2 separate regions of the Homo sapiens genome follow, and region 2 is linked to region 1. The links come from fine-mapping of genetic effects on gene expression. A gene starts in region 1. The other region holds a variant in brackets. All regions are shown on one strand. Distances are from middle to middle.

Region 1 (4,390 bases):
TTACAGGCATGTACCACCATGCCCGGCTCATACATTTATAAAAATTGAATTTATCGGTCTTTTAGATCTTGTGTCATAGTGAAAGTGTCTTTTTCCGTTCTGAGGTTATAAATGAATCATTGTATGGTTTTATTGTTTACATTTAAATCTTTGACATATCTGGAGTTTTTGCTAGTGTATTGTATAGGGTATGGATCCAACATTTTTTCTAGATAGCCCATTTGTCTGAATGAGAAACTTTTTTTTTTTTGAGACGGAGTCTTGCTCTTGTTGCCCAGGCTAGAGTGCAATGGCGTGATCTAGCTCACCACAACCTCCACCTTCCGTGTTCAAGCGATTCTCCTGACTCAGCCTCCCGTGTAGCTAAGAATTACAGGCATGCGCCACCTTGCCCAGCTAGTTTTGTTATTTTTAGTAGAGAGGGGGTTTTTCCATGTTGGTCAGGCTGGTCTCAAACTCCCGACCTCAGGTGATCCACCCGCCTCGGCCTCCCAAAGTGCTGGAATTGCAGGTGTGAGCCACCTCGCCCGGCCCTGAATGGGAAACTTTTTACTGCTGTCATTCTTGGACTATCCTCCACATGCACGTGGATCATATTTCTGTTTGCTCAGCCCAGACATCAGAACTCAGATGCCTGTAGAGACTAGGCAAGTTACATAAAAGGGTGAAGAGTGCCAGGTGGGAAGTATAGCCAACTGGAAATGGATGGCATATTTTTATAAAGAGGGCAGCCACTACCCGGTGCCTGCTGATTACTCTCTTGCACGAATGCAGTAGGTCCCAGTGTTGCCAGATCTTTGTCAAGAGAAGCTGAAAATATACATTTTTATATGAAGCCTCTTGATTTTAAAATGTTAACAATTAAATTTAAATACAGCCTTAGCTAAACAAAATATGTCTTCAGGCCTGACTTGGCCCAGAAAAGCCTTCTGATATTCCTAGCCAAGAATGAGATTTCTAACAAGTTTACTCTCCTATGAGTAAAGAGAACATACATGGTCTAGTAGTTTGACATCACAGTAGTTTATAGCTGGAGTCTGGGAACAGGAGAGAAAAGTAAGGACCCTCTATATAAGCCAAAGTCTTCGCTCTCACAGACTGAAACATTAATGGGAGAAATACAAGCATTTTACCATCCCACCTTTTATCCCAAGTACATGTGAATGGATATGGCCATTTATTAGAGGATGTTCTTGATTTAGTGGATACTTTAGTGGATTAGAAAAATAATCTTATTTTCCAACTCTGCCATTCTGATTTTGCCCAAATGAAAAAGTGGTGCATGTTTTGGGGAGAATAATTGCTCAGCTACTGATGCCGGAACTGAATTGTAGTACTGACTTATTTTTTGTACCCTGTTCGTCTTTTCCCTTTCTCACTGCTGGTGGCTAGGGACAGGGAGTAAAATATCTTCTTTACAACCTGTTAAAAGTAATGTGCTCAGCCTCTTTAGTGGGATGAAATTTGTGGTAATGAGTTACCAGAGCCTATGCCTCTTTGGATTGAAAAGCTTGTCAGGATCTTTTCTGGGTTGCTAATGAGTGTTTCCTAGACGCCGATCCAGGTTTTGTAGGACCTGAAGCCTACACAATTTGGATGACACGATTAAGAAAACAATTCGAAAATATCTTGAAAGTTTTGTAAAAACGATATGATTTTGTGAACGCACAGGGGCCCGTGCAAGTGAAGGACCTTTCAATTCAAGCTTGATCAACGTCACTGTCATCTGCCCCTTCTGACCCTACCACCAGGCTAAGGGCTTTCCACGCCTCATCTCTCGGTCCCCACACCATCACCCTAAGAAATAGTTACTGTATCTCCTAACGATATATTATATATAGTACCTACTTTGTGTAAACATACGGTACTCATGAAAACAAGCCACGTAGAGCACAAATACGTTAAATATCCTGTCCAGCCCGAATGCCCCTTTCTCTCCACGTCCCTATGCAGCCTCCCACGACGGTAGTCCTGGGGCTCCAGCGCTACAAGAGTGGCACCGAGTCCGGATTGTCTTAAGCAGGTCGAGAGGAGGGAGCATATGGGTAAAAAGCAGTCAAACTGAAGAGTCTGGAGCGGCCCCCAGCACAGTCTCGGGAAAAGCGGACTCCCCCGGGGCCCCAGGCCCCGCACCCCCGCGCCGGGCTGGCGCCTGTGCCTGCTCCGCGGCGCGCATGCTCCGTGTTAGGCCTCTTGGGCTATTCGGGATAATGAGCGCCGGGCCGAGGGGGCGGGCCGAGCCTCGGCTGCTGGGACTCAGGGCTCAGCGGCGACCCCAAGGCACTCTGCGCTGCTGCTAAAGGGGCAGCAACGGCGGCCAGCGCTGTGCGCGCCATAGCGAGGCTCGCTCGCCCGACGCGCACTCCGGGTCGGTCCCCAGAGCTCTGTGGAGGTGACTCGAGTGGGCAGGGCCGGGCGGCGCTGTCGGCTGGGAGGGCGGGGAGGAGGCGATGAGGAGACGAGCAGCCGCCGCCGCCGCCGCCGCTGCTCACCGCCCGCCGCGGCCGTAGCGGGAGTCGGGGCGGGGCTGGGCCAGCTGTACCCCTGACGGGCCGCGAACCCAGACAAAGGAGGAGGAGCCGCCCCAGAAGCGGGCCAGCGCCGCCGGGAAAGGAGGTCGCCGCCCGGGGTCGCCCGGGCTTGCGGGTCGCCGCGCTTCCTCTGCGGGCGCTGCGGGAGGCGAGGGCCGCCTCGGCGGAGGAAGCCGACCCCGGGGTCTCCGCCAGCCCGCCGGCGCCGCCTCCGAGCCGCCTCGGCCGTAGCCTCGGCCCGGGCGGGAGGCGGCGGCCGCCGGCGAGGCGAGGCGGCCCGCGCCCTGCCTGTCAGGCCACCGGCCCGGCCCGCGGGCTGCCCCCGATGCGGAGGCGCTGTCGCCGGGGCCATGCAGCAGGCGCCGCAGCCTTACGAGTTCTTCAGCGAGGAGAACAGTCCGAAATGGCGGGGACTGTTGGTCTCGGCCCTGCGGAAGGTCAGTGCTAGGGGCGGGGCGGCCGGCGGGTGGCCCGTGGCCCCCCGAGCTTCTAACGGGGAGCAGGTCGTCCCTCCCACAGGGCTCGAGTCCCCGGGGCCGAGCCGTTTCTCGTTGGCTGGCAATGGGGGGCTCACAATTGCCTGTTGCATTCTGAAGGACGTTTCTCAAGTTTTTTTTTTTTGCCTGGTCCCGGAAGGAAGGTTTTGTTATGATCATAAAACTGGATTTCATGTTGCAGTCATTTCGTCAGGCAACTTCCGCCGTTGACCAATTTGTTGTCCTCAGGCTGGAATCGGGCAAGAGAAAGTCCCGCTGGTATTTAGACAGTTTCTAAAACAAAAGCACATTTTCAGGCCGGGTAATTACTTTTAATTAAGTTCTTTGGGAGTGTTCCCCCTAGGCGGTTTGCTTGTCAAGGGTATCCACTTATGAGGCAATGGTTTTTTGTAATATGGATGTTTCACATGTGTGAAATGTCAGTGAGTCATAATATTCTTATTCATTTTACAGTTCTCAAGGTAAATTTAAAGCGCCTTCCCACTTCCTGCAAACGGTGTCTTACCTGTTTACAAGAGATTACCCTTAGAAAATTTGGTCAGTGTCTTCAGTGTCTTCACGACCAAATTGCGATTTAGGACTTGAAATCATTTTAAGGAACAAGAAAGGGGCAACTCCTGCAAATCAGTCTTTCATGTTTGGGTGCATTGCTAGGGTGCATCTTTCCTGTAGATGGTGGCGGTCTTCCTCTGTGAATTTAGGTAGTAACCATACGATCATTTTTATAATAAATCCTTCTGTAAGATCAAGACATTTAAAGACTGTGAATAGGTGCGTGATCAGCTGTCATGCCTGTTGAGCAGGGGCTTTCTTTCTTTGCCGTTAATGCAGACTTAGTCTCTTCTGCCTTTTGTGCAAAATAACCAAGAATACATTCTAAAATAAGGAAAAAATAAAGATTAATTTAAAAGACTATACTTGGAAAATATATCCTCAGACATTAAATTTCTATAAATGAAAGGAAGTAGTGTATTTTAAAGTTAAAGACATTTTCCTCATGCGATGAGAGTTGCAGATTTTCCCTTATTTTCATAATTCTTACAAGGAAGTATTGCTTTCCTCAGGGCAAACACTAAGTCGTATCTTTTTAAAGAACCTGGCAGAAATGACTAGTGGCAGCTAGACAGTTATTCCATTGGTATACCAAGTGCTAAAGTATTAAATTGACCTTACTTCCATGTGCAGCCCAATTCTGTAAGGAGAGGGAAAGAAATGAAAAGTGTGCTGAGTGGTGAAAATGAACTCTGGCCTGAATTAAAAGCAAAGGGGGAAATGCCTAGATAGTAATTAGCCCTTTGACCACAGACAAGTGTGAGTGCAGTAATCAGGTAGGCCTATATTGTTGGCAATGTGACGCAGGTA
Region 2 (4,390 bases), 130 kb after region 1:
TGTCTTTGGTTCCCACAGTCCTGTAGGCACAGGCCAGGTATTTGACTTCTGGGTTTTCTTTTTTCTTAGGAAACATCAGGATTTGAAAGAGTTTTGATTCATTGATAACAAACATTGTTAGAGGAGAATATTCAGTTTTCATACCATAAAGACCTTCACTCTAATAGAAATACAGAAAAAGAAAACTGTTGCAACGATATCTTACTGAAAATTAATGGAAAAGCTAAGTTTTTACTTTCCATAATATTGGGTAGGAAAGCAATAAATTCTCAAGGCATTTTCACCAGTTAAAGTTTAAACCATTAGATATTTGGGGTTGTTCAAGACATTGAAGTTCTTATGTGTTGGTGAAGTTCTGTGAATATCTAGTGAGTCCCTATCAACTGTGAGATACATTCTAAGTCATTGATTATTAATGACAAGATGCTATCATTTGCAAATGATAAACCTAAAATATGGTACAGCAGATTATCTCCATGATAATATTTTGCTCACGTGCATTCTGAAAACAGTGTCAGCACAGAGGCTCTGAGACCAGATTATCTGGGTTTGAATCCCAGTGCTGCCACTTACTAGCTGTGTGACCTTGAAGTTACTTAAACTCTGTGTGCCTCAGTTTCCTCATATGTAAGGTAAAGATCATAATATCTTATAGGTTGCTGTGGAGATTAAATTAGTCAAATACATGTAATGTACTTAGGTACTAGGCACATAGTAAGTGTTCAATAAATGTGACCGTAGTTGGGGTGGAATTACAGGTGGGCACTTGGAAAATATGCATAATGCAAGTCAGTTTTATCTGTTGCAGTGTGAAATCTGGGCACCTTTTTGAGAGTATAGGATGCATGTAAACATTGCTGCCCAGTCACGGTGGGAATGGCAGCTGGGATGGGAGGAAGTTGAGAACATTGTTACACAACATGTACTGTTATTTAAACAAATAACAATCTTAGAAAAATAAAGAAGATACGGGGAAGAAAATTTTTGTTCACTGTTCATTTTTACAGTTTGAAAGCAACTGCCACGAGCATTCGAAGGCCAATAGGGACAGAGCAAATCCTCGTTTCTAAATATGGGAGCCTGGGTTTGCTGGCTGGAGCTCCAGGATTAACATTCCACCGCCCTGGACCCTTACTCAATTCCTCCTTCCACGGTTCTTTGCTAAACCTGAGACCAGATGGGTAGCAGGCCATTAAAGTACAGCAGAAAGTCATTTTTCTGAAGTCTGAGACTTGATCTATCTGCATAACAATATTTTCAGAGTTTATATTTATTAACTCTAAAAGAGCAATGTGACTTTAAAATATGTTTGTAGCAGTTGTTTCTTGCCTAAATAATCTTTCACTGTGTAATGAGTGCGTGTGTGGGATGCAGGACTTAACTAATTCCTCAGGCTAACTGACCATGTCTTTTACTAACAGACAAGAATGACAAAACCTTGGATTGTGTCTGTTTCTCCATCAGCCAGTGTAAAGTGGCACATAGGCTTTACTTCAGAAGGGGTGTGCAATCTTCCCTGGGCCACACTGGAAGGAGAAGAATTGCCTTTGGGCCATGCGTAAAATACACTAGTGATAGCTGATGAGTTTTTAAAAAATTGCAAAAAAATCTTATAATGTTTTAAGAGGGTTTACGAATTTGTGTTAGTCCACGTTCAAAGATGTCCTGGGCCATATGCGGCCCATGAGCAGTGGGCTGGACAAACTTGCTTTCTGCTTCTGCGTTATATTAAACTTGCAAGGCCTTTCTGTTTGCAATTAATGGAAAATATTGTCATGAATACTCAATAGGTGGTCTTCATTTTTAGAAACCTTTATACATTACCTATAATACAGTAACTTATTTTGTTGAATTAATTCACATTTTTTAATTTTCACAGGTTGAAAACAAGGATATTTCTTCCTTGCAAAGCAAAATTAAAATGTTTGTAAAAGATCTGGCCTAGATGCAGTTTTTATAGGCTTAAACGTTTGAGTAGTTAACAAATTCCTTTCAGGTTATTAGTTCTAATGAGGTACCACTGACAGCTTTTTGATGGGTCAGTGCTGTTAAATGCTTTTGGGTTTTTTGTTGTTGTTTGTTTGAGACAGAGTCTCACTCTTGTCACCCAGGCTGGAGTGTAGT[TG/G]GTGCAATCTTGGCTCACAGCAACCTCCACCTCCCAGGTTTAAGCAATCTTCCTACTTCAGCCTCCTGAGTAGCTGGGATTACGGGCACGAGCCACCATGACCGGCTCAGTTTTATATTTTTTGTAGTGATGGGGTTTGGCCATGTTGCCTAGGCTGATCTCAAACTCCTGAGCTCAAGCAATCTGCCTGCTTTGGCCTCCCAAATTGCAGGGATGAGCTACCACACCTGGCCTTGAGTAGTTTTTTTAAAAGTTACCTTTAACTCAGATTTGTTAATCTGCTGAAGTCCAGGCATTAACGATGTGAGTTCCAGGTGCTTGTGTTGGTTCATGATTGTTTGACAAATCATTGCCAGAGTTTTAGGTATACAGTACAAACAATCTCATGTATCTACATTCAGTACTCAACCTTGTTCTTTTAAGGAATGTGTCCTGATAACCTGCTTGTGCTTCATGCACAGTACAGCAATGTACTGAGGTGCTACATATACAAATTACTATTTTCTTTTTTTTTTTGAGATGGAGTTTCGCTCTTGTTGCCCAGGCTGGAGTGCAATGGCGCAATCTTGGCTTACCGCAACCTCCGCCTCCCAGGTTCAAGTGATTCTCCTGCCTCAGCCTCCCTAGTAGCTGGGATTACAGGCATGTGCCACCACTCCCAGCTAATTTTGTATTTTTAGTAGAGACAGGGTTTCTCCATGTTGGTCAGGCTGGTCTCAATCTCCCAACCTCAGGTGATCCGCCCGCCTCGGCCTCCCAAAGTGCCGGGATTACAGGCATGAGCCACCGCGCCCAGCCACAAATTACTGTTTTTTTTTATACGAAGCTTAGATGAGAAGCTTTACACTTGTGTTTAGAATGAGTGTAAATAATCTCATGGCATATAATTCACATGGAACAAAGGACTGGCTTCTTAAAACTTAAAAACAGGAAAAACAAGTTTCACACTCCCACAAATAATAAATGTTTAACCAGAGAATATCTTTGGATTTCAGTGACATTTATGAATGTAGGTACAGTAATGTGCTTTTAAAATAACTATTTTCTTTCTAAATCTTGTTACAAGGATTTTTTTTTTTTTTTTGAGAGTGTGTTTCACTCTGTTGCCCAGGCTAGAGTGCAGTGGCATGATCATAGCTCACTACAGTCTCGACCTCCTGGGCTCAAGTGGTCCTCCTGCCTCAGCCTCCCAGTAGCTGGGACTACAGGCAACATACCACTATGCCTGGCTAATTAAAAAAATATTTCTTTTTGTAGAGACAGGGTCTCACTGTGTTGCCCAGGCTGGTTTTGAACTCCTGGGCTCAAGCAGTCATCTTACCTCGGCCTCTCAAAGTGCCAGGATTACAGCTGTGAGCCACTGCAGTGGATGGATATTTTAAAAAATTCTGTTGTTCAAAACTCTTCACTCTCAAACATGTATCTGACACCCACAGTCAGTCTGTTACTCTTGTTCCCTGTGAAATGTCTGCTTGTTAACCTGAGAGTCCAAAGAACAGGAGAGGCATAGTTTGGCTGGTAGGAACAATATTCCCAGTTAGCCCTGGAAGACAGTTCCAGTTCAGTTCTAAATCCAATCGCCTTCCCTTTATGCTCCCAAGCTTTATGAGAAAACAGCTCACTTGATTACCACCTAATCTACCTGTATGTCCTTGGGCAAGTTAAACTCTGCATGTTACTTTCCCTTTCTGTAAAATGAGAATATCTACTGGCTAACATTGTGGTGATGGTTAAACTAGATAATGTATGGAGACCATACTTAAGAAAGCAGTCTCCTCAGCTTAAGCCAAAACTGTTTGTTCTGAGAATCCAGACTGGTAAACTCTTGCAAACTAGAGAGGTGTACAAGAAACCATCCCAAGTAAATGACACATAAGTGGTCCAGGAAAAACAATCCTCAGTTGTTAGGAAGGATTCCAAGTTTAGCAGTGTGCCTGTTGTTTACCGTTACGTTCCAACCAGACATCTTCACCATGTCTTTTAGACCCTACCTTTGTCATAGGAAGAGAGAGGCCATAGGGGAAAATAATTGAGAGGTTACTCTTATCAAAAAAAAAAAAAAAAAAAAAAGTCCCGTAAGGCTTTAATGAGGCATGGGGCATCACTGGTTTGATACTTCCCAGCAGAATGCAATACCAAAAGCAAAAACAAAGAAATAGTCCCCTTTCAAAAACACGAAAGTCCCAAAGCAGCAGACTAGTGCAGGCCACAGAGGGCAGGAACAGAACTTAGCAAAGAAGTTCACTGAGACTCTGCAAAATACTG

Alleles and levels. Alleles are on the strand shown, and positions count from the first base shown. SD is a standard deviation of normalised expression in the study named.
In carriers of allele G in region 2, the expression in whole blood of the gene that starts at base 2,587 in region 1 tends to be lower than with TG alone (small effect, 0.09 SD a copy in GTEx).

What was found. PIP is the estimated chance that this variant, and not a neighbour inherited with it, causes the effect.
Region 2: its variant is the best candidate, but not a certain one, in a credible set for the expression of SOS2 in whole blood (GTEx, PIP 0.69).

What each region holds. Positions count from the first base shown.
Region 1 is chr14:50,229,775-50,234,164 of GRCh38, reverse strand. It overlaps SOS2 (SOS Ras/Rho guanine nucleotide exchange factor 2), which reads left to right and starts at 2,587. Exons shown (of 23, transcript NM_006939.4): 1 at 2,587-2,968. The coding sequence starts at 2,882. RefSeq lists an enhancer at 1,676-1,765 and a silencer at 1,916-2,995.
Region 2 is chr14:50,100,261-50,104,650 of GRCh38, reverse strand. The region is part of intron 1 of LINC01599 (long intergenic non-protein coding RNA 1599); the gene reads left to right. It also overlaps a transcript of VCPKMT not described here. Among named protein-coding and RNA genes, the nearest start is that of LINC01599, 2.6 kb to the left of the region's middle. The variant TG/G (reference allele first, on the strand shown) is at 2,125.